2 separate regions of the Homo sapiens genome follow, and region 1 is linked to region 2. The links come from fine-mapping of genetic effects on gene expression. A gene starts in region 2. The other region holds a variant in brackets. All regions are shown on one strand. Distances are between the middles of the regions. Region 1 has its middle 12 kb from the start of PGC. Region 2 holds the start of FRS3 (fibroblast growth factor receptor substrate 3).

Region 1 (2,901 bases), 20 kb after region 2:
TGTTTGTTTGTTTGTTTTTGAGACAGAGTCTTGCTCTTGTTGCCCAGGCTGGAGTACAGTGGCGCGATCTCGGCTCTCCGCAACCTCCGCCTCCTGGGTTCAAGCGATTCTCCTGCCTCAGCCTCCCAAGTAGCTGGGATTACAGGTGTGCGCCACCATGCCTGGCTAATTTTGTATTTATAGTAGAGACGGGGTTTCTCCACGTTGGTCAGGCTGGTCCTGAATTCCTGACCTCAGGTGATCCGCCTGCCTCCGCCTCTCAAAGTGCTGGGATTACAGGTGTGACCCACCACGCCCAGCCAAATGTTTATCGTATAAGCACCCCAGTACTTGGTAATTTGCTACAGCAGCCCAAACTAGGATAGGAGGCTACTGCTATAATCTAGAGGGAGATGATGGTGGCTTGGAATTGGGTGGTGGCAGTGGAAAAGGGGAGAGGTGGACAGATTTGGGATGTATTCTGAAGGTGGACCCAATAGGGCATTGACAATCGAAATATAAGTAGGATATGGGAAAAGGAAAAAGAGGATTAAGGAGGACTCTGAGGTTTGGGGTCTGACAACTGGAAGAAGAGAAAACTTTTACTAATATGGGAAAGGAATTTGGGGGTAAGAGGGGCAGATTTGAGCTGGAAGCCTGGGGGGACAGTTCCCTTGACACTGTGACCCATCCCTGGAGCCAGAGATTGCAGAGCAGGGTCCTTCAGGCACCGCCAAGCACTCCACCAGCCCCGAACTCCTGAGGGCAAGGCCAGGCCTTGTGGAGGCCCCATCTCACTGCTCCTGTCCCTGTGATTTGGTCTCTGCTGTCTGCTGGACCTGTGATCAAGTGTAACCTGGATGCCAAGCCCCACCACACACCCAGGGCTTTGGGACATGCAGCAGCAGTGCTGTGGGTGGAAGGGCATATTCATGTCCAGAGCAGGTCTGGGGAGTCAGCAGAGAGAGCACAGCAGAAGTGAGACAGACTCCCTGGAGGACAAGCCCCTGGGGCCTCGGTCCTAGCACTAGGCAGCAGTGAAACATTCTCCTACAAAGGGAAAAAGTGGAGATTCTCAGAGATCCTCCTGGAACTTTAGGATCAGAGACTCAGCTCCCTGGAATCTGAGCGGGGCTGGGGGAGGGTCCCCAGACTTGGCAGGAAACAGGCACAGTCAGACACACACCTCCCAGGTAACCTCAGAATCAGCAAAAGGGGATCTTCAGGCAGGAAGTCAATGCAGGTGGCTTTAAGGCTCATCTAAGGCCTCTGGATCCTTTCTCTTCCCCATCACTGTGGGGTGCATGAAGACCCCCTGAGGCTGGGGTTCCCCCTATCTGCTCTAGTTCTCAGTTTTCCACACTGTACAATGGGCACACAGAGCCAGTCCCTCTGGATGTTGGGATGTTGGGAAGAGTTGATGTGCTATACATACCTACCAAGGGGCATCCCTCTGGAGGCTGCTCAGCCCCAGCCCCCGTCATGGGCCCCTGGTGTCCCACACTAGGAGTCCCTGAGCACAGGGAGAGCCGTGGCCAGTGGCACACTGCTGCTCACAGGCACACCTCTCCAGAACCCAAACTAGATTGGCCAGGATC[C/T]GAGCTGGCTCCAAGGACCTGGGACTGTAACCGTATCCATATGAGGCTTGACTAGGGGCCACGGGGTGGAAGCGTGAGGTCCAGGCCTAGAGCCTCCTGAGCCCATTATCAGTGTTTGGTTTGGGACTTTTGCATTAGGCTCGGTTCCTGCTCCTTATCCAGGCCCTGGTGATTACGTTCTTTGGCGTTTGATGTGCCGGAACCTGGACACTGGACTCTCCCCTTTCTGCCACCCAATTCTCAACCCCACCCAGAGAGACCTAGTCTGGGACCACATCCAGCTCAGTCCAAACAACCCCTCCTTCATGGCCTCTCTTACCTGCATTGCCTCCTGCTGCCCCTCCAACTCCCACAGGGTACTGGGAGAACAAGGCAAAGGAGCATGGGTTCCTCCTGGCGCCTCTGGAACAGGTCTGGGAGCTCCCTACAAAGAGTCCTATCCAGACCCCCGCCAGCCCACACTCCTCCCCTGCCTGGATCATTCCCCCTGCTTTCTTCAGGGCTGCTCCTGCCTTCCCATTTCCTCCTCAATAAAGGCCCCTCTACCCTGATCTGCTGCTTCCTAAGCTCATGGCTGGGCTATGGTGGGGTCTCTCCCTCCAGCCTTGGTGAAGAGGTAGAAGCTGCCCATGAGCAAGCGGCTGCTCCTTGCCGTCACTGGCTTCCATTTCTCTGAAGGGCTGCTCTGGTACAGAGTCAGGGGGTGATCAGGGGTGGGGACAGGGGTGTCAAGTGTGAGTGTCCTCCAGGCCTGGTCTTTTTTTTCTGAGACTGGGTCTTGCTCTGTCATCTGGGCTGGAGTGCAGTGGCTCAATCATAGCTCACTGCAGCCTCAACCTCCTGGCCTCAAGCAATCCTCCTGCTTCAGCATCCAGAGAAACTTGGACTACGGGCGCATGCCACCATACCTGGCTAACCTGCCGGGTCTTGAAAGACATCAAAGTTCAGGAGTTCCTTCCTTCCCTGGATCCAGGGATTAGATTAGATTTCTCTTGGAGCAGATTAGATTTCCTGCTCTCGTACGTCACGTTCAACCCTGTCTCTCCACTGAATCCATCACTGATGGCAGCAAGAGATGATTAAATAAAGCAATGAGACTGTGGCCCATCTCAGCCCCAGGCCTCATGCTAACCTTGGCTGGAGAGCCTTAACTCGTGGTTGGCTGGACTTAAGAGAAACTGGGCTATGAGTGAAATCAGCTGAACTCCCACCTGCCAGGGTCCTGCTAAAGAAATGCAGGAGCGGCTCTCACTCTCAGACTTCCTGAAGAAACTCCAGCCTGACCCTGCCAACAAACATCTCAACTATGTCAGGCATCAATGAG
Region 2 (2,901 bases):
GGAGCTGGACATCCCCAACACCCGCTGCCCTGAAGGGCAGAGCCCGAGAGGACTTAGGGCTTGGGGAGGTGGAGGGATGGGAAGATTTCTGGGGACAGTGGGAGGGAGAAGGAAGGGGAGTGCCCAGTCCCGCCAACTGCCCTCTCGATAGATCCCCAGAGTTTTTCTGGAACTTGGCGGGCCCGCCTCCGGGGCTGGGACGCGGTGTTTCCCGAGTCCGCTGGGGTTCCCGGTCTGGCTGCTGGGATTTTAGGGGAGGGGACCAGGACTCCGCTGGGGTCTCACCCTCGCTGTGCGTCGCTGTCCGGGCAGTTCTGGACCGACTCTGCCGTCAGGCCCCTCACCCGGTCCCCACCCCAAGGCTTCAGCGCCCGCCCCCGTCCGCCCCCGCCCGCCCTAATAGCGCGGCCCTTCCTCTCCCACGCCCCAGCGGCCCCCGCCCGCCCCTCCCCGGCTGGTGGAGAGGGGCGGCTCAGGGAGGGGCCTGGAGCTGCAGATTGGGGGGAGGAAAAAAAAAAGGAAAACAAAACCACATTTATGGGATCTCAGGGTGGAAATGTGCGGGCTCCATGGCCTCTGCCATGCAGGTGCAAGGGCTCTCTGGCTCGGACTGCGCCCGGCAGGCATCCAGCAGACGCCGGGAGCCGCGTTTACGCTGGGTTTTCAACCATTCGCTGAATGGAAACGCCTCGCCGGGCCCGCAGCCCTGTCTCTCCGCAGTTCCCAGGTCTCCCCAAACTCTCCCTGTGGTCTCCCAGCCCCGCTCCTCCGCGTGTTTCCCTTCAGTTCTCTCCCCCTTGTCCCCAGTGGTCCCCCTGGCCCCTTCCCCTCCCCTCAACCCTCTTCCAGGTTCCATCGTCTTGCCCTTCTCCTTTCAGGTCCCTTCAGACCCTCTCCCCTTCCCTTCGTTTCTCGCCCAACCCTCCGTCCCCTTTCCGCTCCCCGGACCACCCCCAACTTTGGTGTCCTCAGCCCCGCCTCCGCGCCCCGCCTCCGCCGCAGGCTCCGCCCTGTCCCCTCCGGGCTTGCTCAGCCCCTGGCCAGGAGCGCCCTCTGGCGTCTGCGCATGCTCACTGCTCCCGACTGCAAAGTCCTCCAAAGGGACCTTCTAGGCTGCGTGCCGGTCGCCCCCGCTCGGGTCCGCCAGCCCGCAGCGTCTCGTTGGTGCTGCCGGTGACCTCCGACCCCGCGGCCGCGGGGCGGGGCGGGGCGGGGAGGCCTTAGCTCCGGGCGGGCGGCGGCTGCTGCAGCGGGACCCGGGAGCGGGGCCCGGCGCCGCCCGGGCCGCGGGGCGATGTGAGTCGGGGCGCGGCGGGGCGGGGACGAGGCGGCTTCACCGAGGCCGCGCCGCGCCGCGCCGCGCCGCGCCGCAGTCTCCACTCCCTCCCTAGGAAGCCCCGGGCGGGCGGGCAGGCGGCGGAGCACCGGGGCTGGGGGCGGGGATCCGGGGACAGCGCGCACCCAGACCTCCTCATTCCTTACGGGCATGTAGAAATTCCCCTTGACAGTCCTGTAGCCTGTCCTGCAGCCTCTGGCTCCCCCAACCCACCTCTACCCTCTCCGCCCTGGACACATCATCGCATCTCCTGGAGCCCTCAGAACCCCCTCATTCACTCAACAAATCTCCTGCTATGCCCACGGACCCACCATTTCTCTTGGATGCCCCCAAATGCTTCCACTGCCCGGAAATTCCTAGGATCCCTCATATCCCCATTCTCCTTGCACTATCCAAAATGCCCACATCCAAAATTCTTGCTCATGTTTCCCCAAACGTCCTCATACGTTTTCAGCCCCCACACCCCCCTCTCACTCCTGCCCCTGATCCATACCTATCCCAGACCAGAGGCCTCTCCCCATTTCCACTCAATGCAGTCCCTCCTCAGTGGGCTATCTGATACATCCTGATATCTTAAGGAGAAGAGATGGTGATAGGGAAATTCAGCCCCTCCCCCATCTTGCACCCTAGAGTTCTTCGTTTCAGTGCCCGCGCCGTGCCCCCGTCGGTGGCTCAAGCCCCAGTATTTTCCCAGCAACCTATCTTTAGTCTGTGCACACCTCCCTGAGCCTGCTTCTTCCTTCCAGAAAATAAGCCAGACCAAGGGGATGGGGTCCTTTTACCTGGAAGTTGTCCAAGGATGCAGGGTGCAAGGGGCCCTGGGAAGTGTTTCTCCAGAGCAGGAATGTGGGATGTCCAGGGTCTGCAGAGTCCTGGCTTGTTGACTTGTCTACCTTGGGCTCAGATATCCTGAAATTTTGGCTTACTGTTAACATTTATGTTAAAATTAGGCCTTTCAGAGCTTGGGGAGCAGAAAATCTATCAAGCTTCCAAATGCGAAATTGAAGCAGCCTGTCTTGGAAGATGAACATGTCAATTTTAGTGAAGTTTGTCTTACGTTTTTACCTCTGCAAGTTATTTAAGCTAGAAGCTCCCCAGTTTATAGATGGTTCCCCCAAAAACTAAGGCCTTAGGTGGGAGTTGGGGGGGGCGTTGACTTAAGTCTCCCAGATACTTAGTAGCAACAAAACTGACCGATATATTGGTTTCCTGAGTCTTAAACCAGTGCTGTCTCTACTATATCACAGTGTCCTTTTGAGAAAGCTCTTTGTAGAGTTAAAGTTCTCTGCAAAGGTAAGGTGATGGTTTTGGTGTTTGTTGTAACAGGACTCAGAGGGAGATCTAAAGTGACTTAAAAGGTCTTTGGTCGTCTTAGACTTCAAACTTATTGATGTTCTTGGTGTCTGTCCCTCTCAGGGCCCGTGGGGCTTGGGATTTGTGCTCCCTTTGCCCTTGATTTTACTTTCTTCATTGGTGTTTTTGTCCCATTAGGGCTGGAACAGATACCCAGGTGGGATGGACTGTTAGGTCAGTTTTCATTAACAGTTGGGGGTGAAGATAGAAGG

The links. PIP is the estimated chance that this variant, and not a neighbour inherited with it, causes the effect.
Region 1: its variant is fine-mapped to the expression of FRS3 in sun-exposed skin (GTEx, PIP 0.96).

Annotation. Positions count from the first base shown.
Region 1 is chr6:41,758,424-41,761,324 of GRCh38, reverse strand. No RefSeq gene overlaps it. Among named protein-coding and RNA genes, the nearest start is that of PGC, 12 kb to the right of the region's middle. The variant C/T (reference allele first, on the strand shown) is at 1,578.
Region 2 is chr6:41,778,211-41,781,111 of GRCh38, reverse strand. FRS3 (fibroblast growth factor receptor substrate 3) reads left to right here and starts at 1,212. Exons shown (of 7, transcript NM_006653.5): 1 at 1,212-1,296. PRICKLE4 (prickle planar cell polarity protein 4) reads right to left here and starts at 330. Exons shown (of 8, transcript NM_013397.6): 1 at 286-330. RefSeq lists silencers at 547-616, 897-1,306, 1,337-1,486.